Linked DNA regions of Homo sapiens: region 2 is linked to region 1. Evidence: fine-mapped expression QTL. Tissue or cell type: whole blood. Region 1 holds a variant in brackets; the other region holds the start of a gene. All regions are shown on one strand. Distances are from middle to middle.

Region 1 (10,021 bases):
GCAACTTGGTTGGCCCACCTCCCACCCCATAAACGTGTCAGGATGGTCCTGTGTGATGTCTAAGTCCCCTCCCCAGCACTAATGTAGGCCTAGGGTGTGTTTTGCTGACAGAACAGACCCTGGGTGTGTGGCTACTCATTGTCCAGGTGAGGAGTATAGAAAAGGAGGCCATGGGGCCTGGTATAGACCAATGGGAGGGTTTGACATGGCAATGGTGACAGGGAAACCAAAAGCAACTTGCACTGTTACCAGACAACCAACCCTCAACACCAGAAAGGAAAGAAGAGGAACACCCCTACAAGCCAGGTCCATAGATAGGGTCAAGGTAAGACAACCCAAGCCAAGCTCTTCCTCTACTTCCCCATTGACTTCCCTCCCACAAGACTCCTTCCTGTCCTTACCTGGACCAAACCTTCTTCAGCCTACACCCGATCTCATAAAATTTTCCTGATTACCAGAGTAATTCAGGATTGTTAAAAACATGTTCAAACCCCACAGAAGCACACAAAGTTGAAAGTAACCATCTTCTGTCACCTCAGCAATAACTCCAATCAATTATTGGGTACAGGTCATTCAAAAGTTCCTTTTCTCTTTGTACCTGTATTAATGCTGGCACACAGTGCCTCTAGCTAGGTCTACAGCTTTCATCCCTGATACAGCATTAGCTGTCATCCCACACAGGAATTTGGTTTACAAAACCCTTATTTATCTACCCTTTGCCCTTCCTTTTTACACTGGATGTCACTGAAATTCTGCTTCCTGAGATACTGGTAAACAGCAGCATGTATATACAATTTGAGTCAAACAACTGTGGCACTGTGTTACCTCCATGTAACCCTAGGTCTTGCAAAAGTCTGAAGAACACAGCTCTGGTCTGGATAGTCTTTCAGGTCACGTGCTCTAGCCTACTCCTTCTTAGGTCCCCCGTGTGCGGTGCCATAGATATAGTGTTACAATGAGGTGTTGACTTTCTGCTACATACTCTAGGGTGTGGCCAAGCAACCACTGATAAGGAGATTAGTATGGATAGAAGGAATCCAGGTACTATTCATCATGACAATGGGAGAATGACCACAAAGGCATTTCAGAGATTTTCAAAGCTGCCCCTCCAATCACAGGCCCAGAGGACCAGGGCCTCAATTGAGGGCAGAATGGTTTAAAGCAAGGGGCCCCGGGCTCCTGTGGAACCTCAGGGCTCACTGTCCAGAGGTGCCTCAGGTCTCTGCTCCCCAAATTCCAGTGTGGTGCACCTAAGCCACCCCAGCTGTGGCTGAAGCATGTCCATGTATGACTCAGGCCATCACTCTAGAGGGGACAAGTAATGAGCCTTGACAGTGTTGACATGGAAGTGACTCTGCAGGCACACACAGCATAAGAGTTGTGGAGGCATGACGTCCTCCACCTAGATTCCATAGAATGTCTCAAACAGCCTTGGGGCTCAGGCAGGGACCAGCCAAACACATGGAACCACCATAGAGAGCCCCCACTAAGGCAAAGCCTAATGGAGCTGTGGAAGTGGGGTCACCCCTGAGATCTCAGAACTGTAGAGCCACCAGAGTGCAACTCCGGCTTAGGAAAACCACAGGCATGCAACTTCAATACATGAGAGCTGAAACATGCTCTGTTCCCAGCAAAGTCATGGGAACAGGGCTGCTCAGAACCTTGGAGACTGCACCCCCACATCAGTGTGTCCGGAAAGTGGGACATGGAGTCAAAGAATATTATTTTCAAGCCTTAAGATTTATGGTTGTTTTCCCTGTTGGGTTTTGGACTTGCTTGTGGCCTATTACTCCTTTCTTCGCTCCTATTTCTCCCTTTTGGGATGGGAATGTTTATCCTATGCCAGTCCTACCATTGTATATTGGAAGTACATAATTTGCTTGATTTCACAGGCTCATACCTGGAGAGAAATTTACCTAAGGATGAAGCATACCTTAAGTCTCATCTATATTGTCAGGCCTCTGAGCCCAAGCTAAGCCATCATAACCCCTGTGACCTGCACATATACATCCAGATGGCCTGGAGCAACTGAAGAACCACAAAACAAGTGAAACAGTCAGTTCCTGCCTTAACTGATGACATTCCACCATTGTGATTTGTTCCTGCCCCACCTTAACTAATCAATTGACCTTGTGACATTCCTCCCCTGGACAATGAGTCTCAGGAGCTCCCCACTGAGCACCTTGTGACCCCCTCCCCTGCTAACAATAGATAAACACCTTTAACTGTAATTTTCCACTGCCTACCCAAGTCCTTTAAGACTGCCCCTCTCCTATCTTCCTTTGCTGACTCCTTTCTCGGACTCAGCCCACTTGCACCAAAGTGAATAAACAGCCTCACTGCTCACACAAAGCCTGTTTGGTGGTCTGTTCACATGGACGTGTGTAACATTTGGTGCCGAAAAACCCGGAACAGGGGGATTCCTTTGGGAGACCAGTCCCCTGTCCTTGCCCTCACTCCATGAGGAGATCCACCTATGACCTCCAGTCCTCAGACAAGCCCCAGGAACATCTCACCAATTTCAAATTGGGTAAGTGGTCTCTTCACTCTCTTCTCCAGCCTCTCTTGCTACCCTTCAATCTCCTTGTCCTTCCAATTCCAGTTCTTTTTCCTCTCTAGTAGAGACAAAGGAGACACATTTTATCTGTGAATTCAGAAACCCCGACGTCGGTCACAGATTTGGGAAGACAGTCGTCCCTTGGTGTCTGATCTTCACAGGGACACCTGCCTTGATCATTCACCCACACTCCCCTCGTGGCAAGCCAATTATGGGGATGCCTGCTTTGGCTGATCACCCACATTACAGCCCAGGACTCAGCCAGGGACACCTAATGAAAGCCTGGTAGCTGCTCACTTCCCCTTCTCTACATCTCTACCTTTCTCTTCAATTTCACCTCCTTCACTATGGGCAACTTTACACCCTCCATTCCTCCCTCTTCCCCCTTAGCCTGTGTACTTAAAAACTTAAAACCTCTTAAACTAACACCTGATCTAAAACCCAAAAGTCTTATTTTCTTCTGCAATGCCGCTTGGCCCCAATATAAACTTGACAATGGTTCCAAATGGCCAGAAAATGTAACTTTCGATTTCTCCATCCTACAAAACCTAGATAATTTTTGTGAAAAATTGGGCAAATTGTCTGAGGTGCCTTACGTCCAAACATTTTTTACACTTCGCTCCCTCCCTAGTCTCTGCTCCCAGTGCGACTTGTCTCAGATTTTCCTTCTTTCTCTCCCGTCTGCTCCTTCAGTCTCCACCCCAAGCTCAGAGTCCTCTGAATCCTCCTTTTCCACTGACCCTTCTGACCTCTCTCCTCCTCCCCCGGCCGCTCCTCGCCAGGCTGAATCGGGTCCCAATTCTTCCGCAGCCTCTGCTCCCCCACCCTATAACCCTGCTATTACCCCCCCTCCTCACACTCAGTCTTGCTTACAGTTTCATTCCCCGACTAGCTCTCCCCCACCTGCCCAACAATTTCCTCCTAGAGAGGTGGCTGGAGCTAAAGGCATAGTCAGGGTACATGTGACTTTTTCTTTATCTGACCTCTCCCAAATAAGTTAGCGTTTAGGATCTTTTTCATCAAATATAAAAACCCAGCCCAGTTCATGGCCCGTTTGGCAACAACCCTTAGATTCTTTACCACCCTAGACCCAGAGGGACCAGAAGGCCGCCTTATCCTTAATATGCATTTTATCACCCAATCCACTCCTGACATTAAAAAAAAAAAAAACCCAAAAGTTTGATTCTGGCCCTCAAACCCCACAACAGGATTTAATCAACCTTGCCTTCAAGGTGTTCAATAACAGAGAAGAAGCTGCCAAGCAGCAACTTATCTCTGAGTTACAACTACTTGCCTCCGCTGTAAGACAACCCACAACCACGTCTCCAGCATACAAAACCTTCAGAACATCCAAGCCACGGCTCCCAGGGGCTCCTTCAAAACCTCCTCGTGGACCTTGCTTCAAATGCCAAAAGCCTGGCCACTGGGCCTCGGAATGCCCACAGCCCAAGATTCCTCCTAAGACATGCCCTGTCTGTGTGGGCCCCCACTGGAAATCAGACTGTCCAACTCACATCGCCGCCACTCCTAAAGCTCCTGGAGCTCAAACCCAATATTCCTTGGCTGACTCTTTCCCAGATCTCCTCAGCTTAGTGGCTGAATACTGATGCTGCCCCATCATCTCAGAAGCCCCCTGGACCATCACAGACGCCAAGCTTCAGGTAACTCTTACAGTGGAGGGTAAGTCCGTCCCCTGTTTAATTGATACAGGGGCTACTCACTCCACATTACCTTCTTTTCAAGGGCCTGTTTCCCTTGCCCCCCATAACTGTTGTGGGTATTGACAGCCAAGATTCAAAACCCCTTAAAACTCCCCCACTCTGGTGCCAACTTGGACAACATTATTTTATGCACTCTTTTTTTAGTTACGCCCACCTGCCAGTTTCCTTATTAGGCTGAGATATTTTAACCAAATTATCTGCTTCCCTGACTATTCCTGGGCTACAGCCACACCTCATTGCTGCACTTTTACCCAATTCAAGGCCTCTTTCACATCCTCCTCTTGTATCTTCCCACCTTAATCCACAAATATGGGATACCTCTACTCCTACCTTGGCAACCAATCATGCACCCCTCATCATCCCACTAAAACCTAACCACCCTTACCCTGCTCAGTGCCAATATCCCATCCCACAGCAGGCTTTAAAAGGGTTAAAGCCTGTTATCACCCACCTGTTACAACATGGCCTCTTAAAGCCTACAAATTCTCCTTACAACTCCCCTATCCTACCCGTCCAGAAACCGGACAAGTCTTACATGTTGGTTTAGGATCTTCGCCTTATTAATCAAATCGTCCTTCCCATCCATCCTATAGTGCCAAACCCGCACACCCTCCTATCTTCAATACCCCCTTCCACAACTCACTATTCTATTATCGACCTCAAAGGTGCCTTCTTTACTATCCCCTTGCATCCCTCCTCCCAGCCTCTTTTCGCCTTTACTTGGACTGACCCTGACACCCACCAATCCCAACAACTCACCTGGATTGTTCTGCCCCAGGGCTTCAGGGACAGCCCACACTACTTTGGTCAGGCCCTTTCTCATGATCTGCTTTCTTTTTGCCCATCTGCCTCCCACCTTATTCAATATATTGCTGATCTTCTTCTTTGCAGCCCCTCTTACCAATCTTCCCAGCAGGACACTATTCTGCTTCTTCAACATCTCTACTCAAAGGGGTACCGAGTATCCCCCTCCAAGGCACAAATTTCTTCCCCTAGCATTACCTATATCAGTATAATCCTCCATCAACATACACACACCCTTCCTGAAGACATTGTTCAGTTCATCTCCCAGACCCCAATCCCCACCA[T/C]CAAACAACAACTCCTTTCCTTCTTAGGCATTGTTGAATATTTCCAACTCTGGATACCAGGCTTTGCTATCTTAACCAAACCACTTTACAAGCTCACAAAGGGTAATTTAACTGATCCCATAGACCCTAAGTCTTTACCCCATTATTCCTTTCACTCTCTCAGAAAGGCCCTGGAGACAGCTCCCACACTAGCACTCCCCAACTCATCCCATCCTTTTTCCTTACACACAGCTGAAATACAAGGCTGTGCTGCTGGAGTCCTCACACAGGAGCCAGGCCCACGACCTGTTGTCTTTCTATCAAAACAACTTGACCTCACAGTTCTGGGCTGGCCCTCATGTCTGCGTGTGGTGACAGCTGCCACTTTAATACTTCTAGAGGCCTTCAAAATCACAGGCTATGCTCCACTTACCCTTTACAGTTCTCACAACCTTCAAGCATTAATATCCTCCTCACACCTTTTACATTTATTGTCTGCCCCTCAACTCCTCCAGCTATATTCACTCTTTGTTGAAACTCCAACAGTAACTATTACACATGGGCCTGATTTCAACCCAGCTTCTCACTTAGCACCCAAAACAAGTCCTGAACCACATGACTGTATTTCCCTAATACACTTAGCATCTTCCCCTTTTCCTCATATTTCTATTCTTCCAATTCCAAACCCAGACCATACTTGGTTTATCGATGGCAGTTCTTCTAAACTCAATCAATTTTCACCAGCTAAAGCGAGATATGCTGTCATGTCCCACACCTCTATTATCGAAGCTGCTGCACTTCCTCCCTCCACCACTTCCCAACAAGCTGAACTGATTGCTTTAACTTGTGTGCTCTCTCTCACTAAAGGAATGCACATTAACATTTATGCTGACTCCAAATATGCTTTCCACATCCTCCATAACCATGCTGCCATCTGGGCCAAAAAAGGCTTCCTTGCCACATAAGGCTCTTCCATTATCAATGCCTCCCTCATAAAGGCCCTCCTTAAGGCTGCTCTCCTGCCAGCCAAGGCTAGAGTCATTCATTTTAAAGGACACCAGAAACCTACTGATCTTATTGCAAAAGGAAATGCTTATGCCAACAGGACAGCAAAAGAAACAGCCAATGTTTCCACACCTGCTAATATTCCAGCCCCCACTCCAGAGGACCAGTATTTTTCTTTCTCCTCTATCACTCCCACCTACTCTGGTTCTGAAAACCTCCTCTACCAGTCTTTTCCAACTCAGGGCAAGTGGTCCTTCGAGCATGGAAAATTCATTCTTCCTGCCTCACAAGCTCAGTCCATTCTTTCTTCCCTTCATGACCACTTCCATGTGGGATACAAGCCTGGCTATCCTCCTGCAGCCCCTCATCTCCTTCCCTTCATGGAAATCCATCCTTAAGACCATCACCTCTCAATGCTCTGTCTGCCATACCACCAGCCTCCAAGGCTTTCTCAGGCCTCCTCCTTTTCCTATGCATCAGGCTCATGGATTTACTCTGACACAAGATTGGCAGATTGAGTTTACTCATATGCCCTGTGTCCGTAAATTTAAGTATCTCCTGGTTTGGGTCAACACCTTCACCGGGTAGGTCGAGGCCTTTCCCAGTAGCTCAGAAAAGGCTACTGCAGTCTTCTCTTCCCTTCTAATAGATATAATTCCCCGATTTTGCCTCCCTACTTCTGTGCAATCTGACAATGGTCTGGCTTTTATTAGTCAAATCACCCAAGCAATTTCTCAGGCTCTTGGTATTCAGTGGAATCTTCATACCCCTTACCATCTTCAATCTTCAGGAAAGGTAGAATGGACTAATGGCCTTTTAAAAACACACCTCACCAAGCTCAGCCTCCAACTTAAAAAGGACTGGACAGTACTTCTACCACTTGCCCTTCTCAGAATTAGAGCCTGCCCTTAAGATGCTACAGGGTACAGTCCATTTAAACTTTTATGTGGACGTACTTTCTTGCTCAGCCCCAAACTTTTCCAGACACCAGCCCTCTAGGTGACTATCTTCCAGTCCTTCAGCAGGCTAGACAGGAAATTCGCCAGACTGCTAATCTTCTCTTGCCTACTCCACATTCCCAGCCATATGAAGACATCTCTTTTAGTACACCCTCTCACCTCTTCACTTTGCACTTCCAGTTTTGCCTTACACAAGGTCTCTTTTTCCTCTGTGGCTCATCCACCTACATGTGTTTTCCTGTTAATTGGACAGGCGCATGCACACCAGTTTTCCTTACTCCCAAAATTCAATTTGCAAATGGGACCGAACAGCTTCCTGTTCCCTTCATGACACTGACACAACAAAAAAGGGTTATTCCACTAATTCCCTTGCTTGTCGGTTTAGGACTTTCTGCCTCCACTATTGCTCTTGGAACTGGAGTAGCAGGCATTTCAACCTCTGTCACAACCTTCCATAGCCTCTCTAATGACTTCTCTGCTAGCATCACAGACATATCACAAACTTTATCAGTCCTTCAGGCCCAGGTTGACTCTTTAGCTGTGGTTGTCCTCCAAAACAGCTGAGACCTCGACTTACTGCTAAAAAAGGAGGACTCTGTATATTTTTAAATGAAGCGTTTTTTTGTTTTGTTTTGTTTTGTTTTGTTTTACCTAAATCAAACTGGCCTGGTATATGACAACATAGAAAAACTCAAGGATAGAGCCCAAGAACTCACCAACCAAGCAAATAATTACACTGAACCCCCTTGGGCACTCTCTAATTGGATGTCCTTGGTCCTCCCAATTCTTCGTCCTCTAATACCTGTTTTTCTCCTTCTCTTATTCAGACCTTGTGTCTTCCGTTTAGTTTCTCAGTTCATACAAAACAGCATCCAGGCCATCACCAATCATTCTATATGACAAATGCTCCTTCTAACAACCCCACAATATCACCCCTTACCCCAAAATCTTTCTTCAGTTTAATCTCTCCCACTTTAGGTTCCCGCGCCACCCCTAATCCCACTCGAAGCAGCCCTGAGAAACATTGCCCATTATCTCTCCATACCACCCCCAAAAGTTTTCACAGCCCCAACACTTCACCACTATTTTGTTTTGTTTTTCTTATTAATATAAGAAGACAGGAATGTCAGGCCTCTGAGCCCAAGCTAAGCCATCATAACGCCTGTGACCTGCACATATACATCCAGATGGCCTGGAGCAACTGAAGAACCACAAAACAAGTGAAACAGCCAGTTCCTGCCTTAACTGATGACATTCCACCATAGTGATTTGTTCCTGCTCCAACCTAATTAATCAATCGACCTTGTGACATTCCTCCCCTAGACAATGAGTTTCAGGAGCTCCCCACCGAGCACCTTGTGACCCCCTCCCCTGCTAACAATAGATAACCACCTTTAACTGTAATTTTCCACTGCCTACCCAAGTCCTATAAGACTGCCCCTCTCCCATCTACCTTCACTGACTCCTTTCTCGGACTCAGCCCACTTGCACCCAAGTGAATAAACAGCCTCATTGTTCACACAAAGACTGTTTGATGGTCTCTTCACACAGATGTGTGTAACATAAATCTGATTTGGATGAGATTCTGAATTTTAGACTTTTGAGTTGATGTTAGCATAAGTTAAATCTTTGGGGAATATTGGGATGAAATGAATGTATTCTGTATGTGAGAAGGACATTAATTTTGTGGGCCAGAGGGGCAATGCTATGGACTGAATGTGTTCCCCAAAGCTCATGTGTTGCATATAATCCCCACTGCAACAGCGTTGGGAGATAGGAACTTTTGGACAATATTTAAGTCATGAGAGCCTAATGGATTAATGCCATTAAATAAAAAGGGTTTGTTAGAGTGGGTTTGTGCTGTTCTGTTCTTCTGACATGTGAGGACACAGCATTTGTCCCCTTTTGCCCTCATGCCTTCCACTATATGCTGATGCAGCAAGAAGGCCCTCACAAGATGCTGGTGCCTTGAGCTTGGACTTCCTAGCCTCCAGAACTGTGAGAAATAAATTTCTGTTCTTTGCAAATTACCTAGCCTTAGGCATTTTGTTATAGCAGCACAAAACAGACTATGACAATAACTTATAGTTTGCATCGTGTTACTAACTTCAAGATTGTTTTATTATAATTCAGTTTTGCACCACATTTTGGCAAGAAAATTTAACTTTGGCAAGGAGATAGGAAATCCCTCTCCACTTCTCCTCAGGCTAGGAAATGTCCCACACATAGTTCTAAAGCCCACAGCTCCCAGTATTTACTGTCTAAGCTGCCTCACTGGTGACAACATTCAATTATTACAAGGCAATCCCTAAAAGGACTATGTGTCTTCTGAAGTAAGCTAAATCAGTAGCAGGTGTATGACAGGCACAGCTGGTGAAGGTAAGGGGACCAAGGAGCATTTGGAGGAGGGCCAGAAGTAGGCAGAGCTAGAGGGAGCATAGTAGAATGTGACAAGTGTATACCAGGCAAACCGAGCATTTTCAAAAAAAAAGAAAAAAGCCTGCATTCGTCCAACTCGGTAGAGAGGCACAAGAGAACGAAGTTGAGGGCTTGTCTTTTGGGATCTCTTTCAGGGACTGGGTCAGATGCTGAGTACACATTTGCAGAATTCCTCAAAATAAGGAGACACAGTCCTATTAATCAGAAGAAGAAAGAGGACCAAACATGCAGTCCTGATTCTGATGGGAGGCAAAGCAAGCATAACTTCAAGAA
Region 2 (10,021 bases), 25 kb after region 1:
GCCCACTCCGCGCGGACTACCTTTCCAGGCACACACTCAGGCAGAGACCCAGACTCGGGACTTGCGGCTGCAAAACGGACGAGGCCCGGGCATACTTGGGTGCTGGGTCACCCTCCTAGGTGCTGGCTCCTGGCACCAGGGCAGCAAAGTGCTTCGGCCGGAGGGCTGCGGGTCCCTGAAGCCGGATGGGCAGCGGGGAGATGGCAGACCCTCCGTAGGATGGTGTGCGTGAGCTGCGTGAGCGCCTGGGGCATCTCCTCCACGGAATGGCACCCGCACCAGGTGCCCCTGGCCTCGCCTGGCCTTGCCAGCCAGAGGACCAGTCCTGGACGGGGAGGGGGAGGACAAGAGCAGGTGCACAGGCCCCAGAACCCGGCTCCCTGACCCTGGCCAGAACGCAGAGCTGCCGGACGCACCTCAGACCACTCCCTGGCCCTCTGGTGGGCACGCCGGGGTGCACACCCGTCGCCCCGCTGGCGCCTGCCTCCGGGGCACGTGCGGGAGGGGCAGAGGCCTGGACCAGGAACCGCTGTGGTGAGAGCCAAAGGCGCTGGGACCTGCGGCCCACAGACCTTTGGACACCCCGGTGGGGGTGGGGGTGGGCTGGCGCCTGTGTTCCCGGGACCCGCGGCGCGAGGGGAGTGGGGGTGGGGCTAGGGGATAGGAGCAGGTGACGTCACCCGGGGTCCTGGGGCGCTCGGGAAGGCGGCGAGAGCCAGGCCACGTGACCCGCCCGCGGCAACGGCCCTGCGCTCTCCCGGGCCGGCGACGCGGAGGGGTCCGCGCTGCACCGCCGCCGCACCCCGGCCGCGTGACCGCACTGCAGAGAGCGGCTGCGAGCAGGCGCCTGCGCACCGGCCCAAACGCCGAGCGAGCGAGGGAGAGGCACAGTCAGAGGGAACGCCCGCGCGGGGAGCCAGGGGCGCCCGACCCCGCCGCCGCCGCAGCGGCGCGCAGCCCCCGACGCGCCCTGTGGGGACCCGGACCAGGAGGGACCCTGCCCCGGGAAAAGGTATCAGACCCACCCGGGGAGGGGGACGCTGGGTCCCGGGAGACTCCGCCGCCCCTCGCCTGTCCGCCCTAACAGAACTGAAGCAGCCTGCGGGGCAGCGGTCCGGGGTCCGGGGTCCGGGGTCCGGGGTCCGGGGGCGGCGCGGGGATGAGGCCAAGACCCGCAGGGACCACCCCCCCGGGGGGGCGGGGCGGGACAGGGGCGGGGCCTGGCTGCAGAGGCGCGGCCAGGGGAGGAGGGCGGCTGGGGGTGGGAGTGGACGTGGACGTGGACGTGGGCGTGGGGAGGGGTGGGCATTAACCTCGCTCTCGCCCGCTCGCATTCACAGGCTGTGGAGACCTGGGCTCCGACCCCAGTTCATCCCCCCACACCCCCGCCGCCCCGTGCCACCCTGGTCCGCGCTGGGAACCCTATCCTGCCCCTCGTGTCAGCCCGGCACTGGCCAGAATCGCGGGCATGGCGGTGACCATGCTGCAGGACTGGTGCCGGTGGATGGGGGTCAACGCTCGCAGGGGCCTGCTCATCCTGGGCATCCCGGAGGACTGTGATGATGCCGAATTCCAAGAGTCCCTCGAGGCTGCCCTGAGGCCTATGGGACACTTTACAGTGCTAGGCAAAGCGTTTCGAGAGGAGGATAATGCCACCGCGGCCCTGGTCGAGCTCGACCGGGAAGTCAACTATGCTTTGGTCCCCAGGGAAATCCCCGGCACTGGGGGCCCGTGGAACGTGGTCTTTGTGCCCCGTTGCTCAGGCGAGGAGTTTCTCGGTCTCGGTCGCGTGTTCCACTTCCCGGAGCAAGAGGGGCAGATGGTGGAGAGCGTGGCCGGCGCCCTGGGTGTGGGGCTGCGCAGGGTGTGCTGGCTGCGATCCATCGGTCAGGCGGTCCAGCCCTGGGTGGAGGCCGTGAGGTGCCAGAGCCTGGGTGTGTTTTCCGGGAGGGACCAGCCAGCCCCAGGGGAGGAGTCCTTTGAGGTCTGGCTAGACCACACCACCGAAATGCTGCATGTGTGGCAGGGGGTCTCGGAAAGGGAGAGGAGGAGGAGGCTGCTGGAAGGCTTGCGTGGGACCGCCCTGCAGCTCGTGCACGCGCTCCTGGCGGAGAACCCCGCCAGGACGGCGCAGGACTGTCTGGCGGCCCTGGCCCAGGTGTTTGGAGACAACGAGTCCCAGGCGACCATCCGGGTGAAGTGTCTGACCGCTCAGCAGCAGTCAGGCGAGCGTCTCTCAGCTTTCGTGTTGCGGCTGGAAGTGCTGCTGCAGAAGGCCATGGAGAAGGAGGCCCTGGCCAGAGCATCCGCCGACCGCGTGCGCCTGAGGCAGATGCTCACCAGGGCCCACCTTACTGAGCCTCTGGATGAAGCACTGAGGAAGCTGAGAATGGCCGGGAGGTCTCCAAGTTTCTTGGAGATGCTGGGGCTCGTTCGGGAGTCTGAGGCATGGGAGGCCAGTCTAGCCAGGAGCGTGAGAGCCCAGACACAGGAAGGGGCCGGTGCCCGGGCTGGTGCCCAGGCTGTTGCCAGAGCCAGCACTAAAGTAGAGGCGGTCCCAGGAGGTCCTGGTCGGGAGCCAGAGGGCCTCCTCCAGGCAGGAGGCCAGGAGGCTGAGGAGCTCCTCCAGGAGGGGCTCAAGCCCGTCCTGGAGGAATGTGATAACTAGGTTGGGGCTGGGGAGGCAGCCCAGCGCGAGTCCTCCCCGGGCAAATAGGCTCCGAGGGCCCCGGGGCCTCCTCTCCTCCTCTCAGGCAGCAGGGCCCTGGAGACAGGCGGAGGCCGGGCCAGGGCCGGTCCCTCACCCCACATCGGGATCGGGGCCAGCTGTGGCCTGGGTGGGGGCACCTGAAGATGTCTGCCCCCCACTCCTTGTCCTGGGTTGGGAGAGGCAGGGGGAAAGAGGCCCTCTCAAGGGTGTCAGCTGCCTGGGTCTCCCAAGAGCGGTCCCCCACCCGCGGAGTCCTCCACATGGCTCCCGTGTGGGCCTCTGACTTCATGCCCAGGCCCTCCTGGGGCTCTTCCCTGACCTTGGCTTCCAGCCTGAGGTTACACATGTGGCCACTCTGACCCTTCTGAAAGCCCTGAGCGCCGCCCCCCCCACCCCACCCCGCAGTGCTGTCAGGGATCCTGGATACCAGGACCTAGCCTACTGTCCCTCTGCCTGTCTGCAACGTCCAAACCACCTACTCCTGGGAGGTGATCAGCGTGCCCTGGGAACCCAATCAGCCCCTGCTCAAGACTACCACGCCATCCCGTGCAGCCCAGGGGACCACACAGACCCTCAGGGACCAAGCACCCCACACACCCCGATGTTAGCCCAGCCACTGTGGCACCTCACCTCACCTTGTCCCCAGCCAACACTGCACCCCGCACCCCGCACCCCATGCAGTTTCCCACAGCAGAGGCGAGGCCGGCTGGAACACTGAATGAAATTTATTGAAGAGAGATATGTACTGAAACCGTTGAAGAGAAGGGAATCACAACACAGAAGCTGCAAATGGCCACCACAGGACACAGGTCGGGACCCCCCTCCTCCTGGGGGAACACCCACCCCAGGTCTAGGAAACTCAGTAACAAGTAACAACAGGGGTGGAACGCCAAAGCACAAAGTTCACTGGGGAAACTCAGACAGCCCCACTCCATCCCGGGTCCTGTTCTTTCTCCCACAGTCATGGTCACCATCGCTGTCACGGGATGAGTGTCCACTGTGCCCTGGTGCCTTCTTTCCGCCATCTCCCGGGACTGCGCTGGGGTCCTCTGGGGAGGAGCTGCTCAGAGAAGAACACACACGGCTCCACAAAAACAAGCAGCCCCTGGCCTAGATCTACGCAGGGAAAGCAGAGGTGGTGCTCACGATACGGGAGAGCAGTGAGCACAACCTGGGCTCCCAGGAAGCTCACAGCACGTGCCCCTGGCACTGGAGGGGCGCCTCCCCCCACCCCATTTGGTATTAAATGTGGTCATCTGGGTCACCGGGAAGGTGGTGGTGGGCAGGGCCCCTTGGGGGGAAGTGGGGGGCCCCGATCCCGATGTGGGGTGAGGGACCGGCCCTGGCCCCGCCTCCGCCTGTCTCCAGGGCCCTGCTGCCTGAGAGGAGGAGAGGAGGCCCCGGGGCCCTCGGAGCCTATTTGCCCGGGGAGGACTCGCGCTGGGCTGCCTCCCCAGCCCCAACCTAGTTATCACATTCCTCCAGGACGGGCTTGAGCCCCTCCTGGAGGAGCTCCTCAGCCTCCTGGCCTCCTGCCTGGAGGAGGCCCTCTGGCTCCCGACCAGGACCTCCTGGGACCGCCTCTACTTTAGTGCTGGCTCTGGCAACAGCCTGGGCACCAGCCCGGGCACCGGCCCCTTCCTGTGTCTGGGCTCTCACGCTCCTGGCTAGACTGGCCTCCCATGCCTCAGACTCCCGAACGAGCCCCAGCATCTCCAAGAAACTTGGAGACCTCCCGGCCATTCTCAGCTTCCTCAGTGCTTCATCCAGAGGCTCAGTAAGGTGGGCCCTGGTGAGCATCTGCCTCAGGCGCACGCGGTCGGCGGATGCTCTGGCCAGGGCCTCCTTCTCCATGGCCTTCTGCAGCAGCACTTCCAGCCGCAACACGAAAGCTGAGAGACGCTCGCCTGACTGCTGCTGAGCGGTCAGACACTTCACCCGGATGGTCGCCTGGGACTCGTTGTCTCCAAACACCTGGGCCAGGGCCGCCAGACAGTCCTGCGCCGTCCTGGCGGGGTTCTCCGCCAGGAGCGCGTGCACGAGCTGCAGGGCGGTCCCACGCAAGCCTTCCAGCAGCCTCCTCCTCCTCTCCCTTTCCGAGACCCCCTGCCACACATGCAGCATTTCGGTGGTGTGGTCTAGCCAGACCTCAAAGGACTCCTCCCCTGGGGCTGGCTGGTCCCTCCCGGAAAACACGCCCAGGCTCTGGCACCTCACGGCCTCCACCCAGGGCTGGACCGCCTGACCGATGGATCGCAGCCAGCACACCCTGCGCAGCCCCACACCCAGGGCGCCGGCCACGCTCTCCACCATCTGCCCCTCTTGCTCCGGGAAGTGGAACACGCGACCGAGACCGAGAAACTCCTCGCCTGAGCAACGGGGCACAAAGACCACGTTCCACGGGCCCCCAGTGCCGGGGATTTCCCTGGGGACCAAAGCATAGTTGACTTCCCGGTCGAGCTCGACCAGGGCCGCGGTGGCATTATCCTCCTCTCGAAACGCTTTGCCTAGCACTGTAAAGTGTCCCATAGGCCTCAGGGCAGCCTCGAGGGACTCTTGGAATTCGGCATCATCACAGTCCTCCGGGATGCCCAGGATGAGCAGGCCCCTGCGAGCGTTGACCCCCATCCACCGGCACCAGTCCTGCAGCATGGTCACCGCCATGCCCGCGATTCTGGCCAGTGCCGGGCTGACACGAGGGGCAGGATAGGGTTCCCAGCGCGGACCAGGGTGGCACGGGGCGGCGGGGGTGTGGGGGGATGAACTGGGGTCGGAGCCCAGGTCTCCACAGCCTGTGAATGCGAGCGGGCGAGAGCGAGGTTAATGCCCACCCCTCCCCACGCCCACGTCCACGTCCACGTCCACTCCCACCCCCAGCCGCCCTCCTCCCCTGGCCGCGCCTCTGCAGCCAGGCCCCGCCCCTGTCCCGCCCCGCCCCCCCGGGGGGGTGGTCCCTGCGGGTCTTGGCCTCATCCCCGCGCCGCCCCCGGACCCCGGACCCCGGACCCCGGACCCCGGACCGCTGCCCCGCAGGCTGCTTCAGTTCTGTTAGGGCGGACAGGCGAGGGGCGGCGGAGTCTCCCGGGACCCAGCGTCCCCCTCCCCGGGTGGGTCTGATACCTTTTCCCGGGGCAGGGTCCCTCCTGGTCCGGGTCCCCACAGGGCGCGTCGGGGGCTGCGCGCCGCTGCGGCGGCGGCGGGGTCGGGCGCCCCTGGCTCCCCGCGCGGGCGTTCCCTCTGACTGTGCCTCTCCCTCGCTCGCTCGGCGTTTGGGCCGGTGCGCAGGCGCCTGCTCGCAGCCGCTCTCTGCAGTGCGGTCACGCGGCCGGGGTGCGGCGGCGGTGCAGCGCGGACCCCTCCGCGTCGCCGGCCCGGGAGAGCGCAGGGCCGTTGCCGCGGGCGGGTCACGTGGCCTGGCTCTCGCCGCCTTCCCGAGCGCCCCAGGACCCCGGGTGACGTCACCTGCTCCTATCCCCTAGCCCCACCCCCACTCCCCTCGCGCCGCGGGTCCCGGGAACACAGGCGCCAGCCCACCCCCACCCCCACCGGGGTGTCCAAAGGTCTGTGGGCCGCAGGTCCCAGCGCCTTTGGCTCTCACCACAGCGGTTCCTGGTCCAGGCCTCTGCCCCTCCCGCACGTGCCCCGGAGGCAGGCGCCAGCGGGGCGACGGGTGTGCACCCCGGCGTGCCCACCAGAGGGCCAGGGAGTGGTCTGAGGTGCGTCCGGCAGCTCTGCGTTCTGGCCAGGGTCAGGGAGCCGGGTTCTGGGGCCTGTGCACCTGCTCTTGTCCTCCCCCTCCCCGTCCAGGACTGGTCCTCTGGCTGGCAAGGCCAGGCGAGGCCAGGGGCACCTGGTGCGGGTGCCATTCCGTGGAGGAGATGCCCCAGGCGCTCACGCAGCTCACGCACACCATCCTACGGAGGGTCTGCCATCTCCCCGCTGCCCATCCGGCTTCAGGGACCCGCAGCCCTCCGGCCGAAGCACTTTGCTGCCCTGGTGCCAGGAGCCAGCACCTAGGAGGGTGACCCAGCACCCAAGTATGCCCGGGCCTCGTCCGTTTTGCAGCCGCAAGTCCCGAGTCTGGGTCTCTGCCTGAGTGTGTGCCTGGAAAGGTAGTCCGCGCGGAGTGGGCTACTCAATTTGTCCCCTGCCCCCTGTGCCCTCACCAGCCTGATGGGCTCTGGGACATTGCTCTCTTGGCCCTGAGGGCAGCATGGGTGTCGTACCTCCCTGGAGACCTCCGTCTGTCAGGGCCTGAGTCAGCCTTCCATAGGTCCTTCCCCAGTCCTCTGTTGCCGGGGCTAGACACTGCGCCAGGGCAGAGCAGCCTCCGCTCAAAACAGAGATTCTGCGCCCGTGGATCTGACCACCCTGCACCTGACCCATCATGGGAGGCTGGGGCCATGTGAACAGCATCTCCACCAGGCAGGTGGCAAACAGGTTCCCACGGGGTCACACCTCTGGGTGTCGTTCCCTCATCCCCTTCTCTTTCCTTGCCTGACCTCCTGTTTGGCAACTTGCTGGCCAAGGTTTCCCCCAAGCGTCCAGCTCGCCCAAGCTCCTTGCTGAATCACAGCCCCAGAGTATTTGTCTATGACCCTGGGGATGGACATTCCGGTCCTTCCCACTGTTTGGCTGTTGCAGACACTGCTGCCAGTGGCATCCCGCATGCCTGTCTGAGCCACCACCGTCAGCCAGAAAGACTCTGGGGTGCACAGCAGGCAGTGGCTCTGCTGGGACTTGGGCTGTGCCTATCAACGCCACAACCAAGCATTGCTCATCTGTGACCTCCGGTGCGTGGCTGAACCCATGTTCCCTCGCACTGGCAGCGTGGGAGCGGTCCTGGGTTCCTACAGCCCGAGCAGCCTTTGGTCCTGTCCAGCCTCGCCTGCTTGCCCATCCCACGGGGAGAGACACCACCTCATCGCTGTGTGCCTTGCGTTTCCCCGAGCGGTGGCGAGGTCGTGCATCCTCTCACTGGCCGTTCCTGGTTCCTCTTCTGTGAATCTCCTTTGCTCCTTTCCTCCTCATCTCGCAGATGACAGGCGTCATCGGCCCGTTTCCAGGAGAAAGTTCCTAGCGTCAAGATCGAAGCCTTTCTCCTTTTGTGATATAAGCCATGGCCAGTCTATCACGTTGCCCAGAAGCAGGTCGCATTGGAGTGGGCCTCACAATTAGACTTTGGCTTGCCCGTATGGTTGTGAAAGGTTTCAGAATCAAGATGGAGTCACTTGTTGTTCAAGCAAACAAAAATCCAAAAACCTGACAAATAGAGCTGTGGAGGGCCACCTAGGCAGGGTTCCCATGCACGAATGCCTGATAACAAAAGCTATCACGGAAGACTGCAAAACCCACAAATTTGCACAAAGGCTGTTGCAACCTGACACAAATAATACTTCTGTGAGGACACCTGCCCAGCAACTTCCTGTCCAAGCCCCTGACCAATGCTACCCTTGTTATTCATCCTTGTAGCCAAAGATCATTATGTCAAAACAATTATGTAATCCTCTTCACTTGTCCTGAAAAACCTTTGTCTGCCTTCCCCTGCCTGAATATGCACATAGTTCACTAGGGCGCACGCGTCCCCACTGCAGTGCCTATTTCTGAATACCATTCTTATAGGGAGGCTCCCTCTCTGTGTGGTACTTAGGTTGGCATGGTCTTGCTCCCCAGGCTTTTCTACCTCCCAGGTAGTAAACGTGGGGTCAGCGAAGAAACGCATGTCTTCTGTCACAAAGCAGCCTCCCCGGTTGGGCTCGTGTGTCCAGTCCTCCCCGCCCCCCTGCCCCCCACCGCTTCTCCCCCTTGAGGGCCAAGACTGCTTGTTCTCATTCAGGCAAACTGCTGCTCTTTACCTCTGCTGTGAGAGTGTCTGTCTATCGAACCTTTAGTGTTAGACTTGTCACGGCTTATACCACATATTGTCCTCTCTCTTGTTTTCAGCCGTGATTTTTCTGGAGTCCTTCTTCAGAAAGGGCACCGACCCCCCCCCCCTCCCCCCCCCCGCCTCGGCCGCCCCCGCCCTGGGAACATCTGTGGGTCTGGTGTCTCCAACTGGCCCAGCCAGCCCACCGGCCGGCTCGCAACTAATTTCCTGTTTTCGGCCTTGTCTCTTCCCACTCTCCTTCCTTCTGCACCTGCTGACTCCAAGTCCAGGACGCTGCAGGACACCCATTGCCCCCCGCCAACCCCGGGCAAGGCTGGGCTGTGACACGTCAACTGTCTTTCTTTTGTCAGTCCTCTGTCCCCATTGTCTCCACCTCTCAACACAGTTGACTCTCCTTCCTTCTCAAAACCATTTCCTTTCTCAGCTTCTTCCTCTCCCCCACCCCACTTTTGGGCTGACCTCCTCCCTCTCTACCTGCCTCTCTGCCCTTGGACCTTCCTCCTCCTCCTCCTACTTTGCTGGATCTAAGCGTGGTGGGGGCGGGCTCCCAGCCTCAACCCTGGGACATACGGCACCTCCGATGAATGCTCTGTCTCTGGACGTGACCTCTCTTCCAAGCTCCGCACGTACCCATCCATCTGCCCACGTGGATGCCCCGCAGACATTTCAGAGCTAAGATGTTCAAACCGGAGGGCTTCGTCCCCTTCACCATGCCTACACTGTCCCCGGGCTTCCCCCTCTGTGCAAAGGGCTCTGCCTCCTACCTGGTGACTCAAACAAAGCAGCCAAGATTCTCTCCCCTCTCCTTTGTTCCTCACTCCCAAATCTAACCCATCATTGGATTTTGTTGACTCTGCTCCAAGACTGCTACCCTTCTCATCTCCGTGGTCCTTGGCCCGCCCTGCCTCCTGTTCTCCCTGCCTCCACTCCGCTTCCTCCCTGCTCCACCAACACCCCCTCAGCAGCCAGGGTGATCTTTTTGCAACACCACCAGACCCTGCTCCTCCCTGTGGCACCCCATCTCCTTAGAGTAATCTCAAAGTCCCCATCCTGGTCAAGAGCACCCCCCACGCTGCTCCTGGGGATCTGGCTTCCTCTGATGCTCTCCTTCCTTCCCCGAAATCCACCCCATGTTGCCATGCCCCCAGCTCCTCTCACCACATTCCTGCCGATCTGGCCTGTTCAGCTGGCCCCAAAGCACAGGGCTTGTTCCCACCTTCGGCCTTTGCCATCCCTCCTTCCTCTGTGTGAGCCATCCAGGCCCAAGAACCTTCTGTGGCAGCAGCTTCCTCCTGCTCTTCCTCTCCCTCCTCCTCCTCCTCCTCCTATTCCTCCTCCTCCCCCTCCTCCTGCACCTCCTCCTCCTTCATGTCTCAGCTGAACTGTCCCCTCCTCCCATAGGCCCCCTCTGCTGGGACACACAA

The links. PIP is the estimated chance that this variant, and not a neighbour inherited with it, causes the effect.
Region 2: it holds the start of PNMA6A, and the variant in region 1 is fine-mapped to the expression of PNMA6A in whole blood (TOPMed, PIP above 0.99).

Annotation. Positions count from the first base shown.
Region 1 is chrX:153,093,407-153,103,427 of GRCh38, reverse strand. No RefSeq gene overlaps it. Among named protein-coding and RNA genes, the nearest start is that of PNMA6A, 26 kb to the right of the region's middle. The variant T/C (reference allele first, on the strand shown) is at 5,367.
Region 2 is chrX:153,068,416-153,078,436 of GRCh38, reverse strand. PNMA6A (PNMA family member 6A) reads right to left here and starts at 5,983. Exons shown (of 2, transcript NM_032882.6): 1 at 5,831-5,983; 2 at 3,418-5,502. The coding sequence starts at 5,374. The coding sequence ends at 4,175. It also overlaps the pseudogene PNMA6B.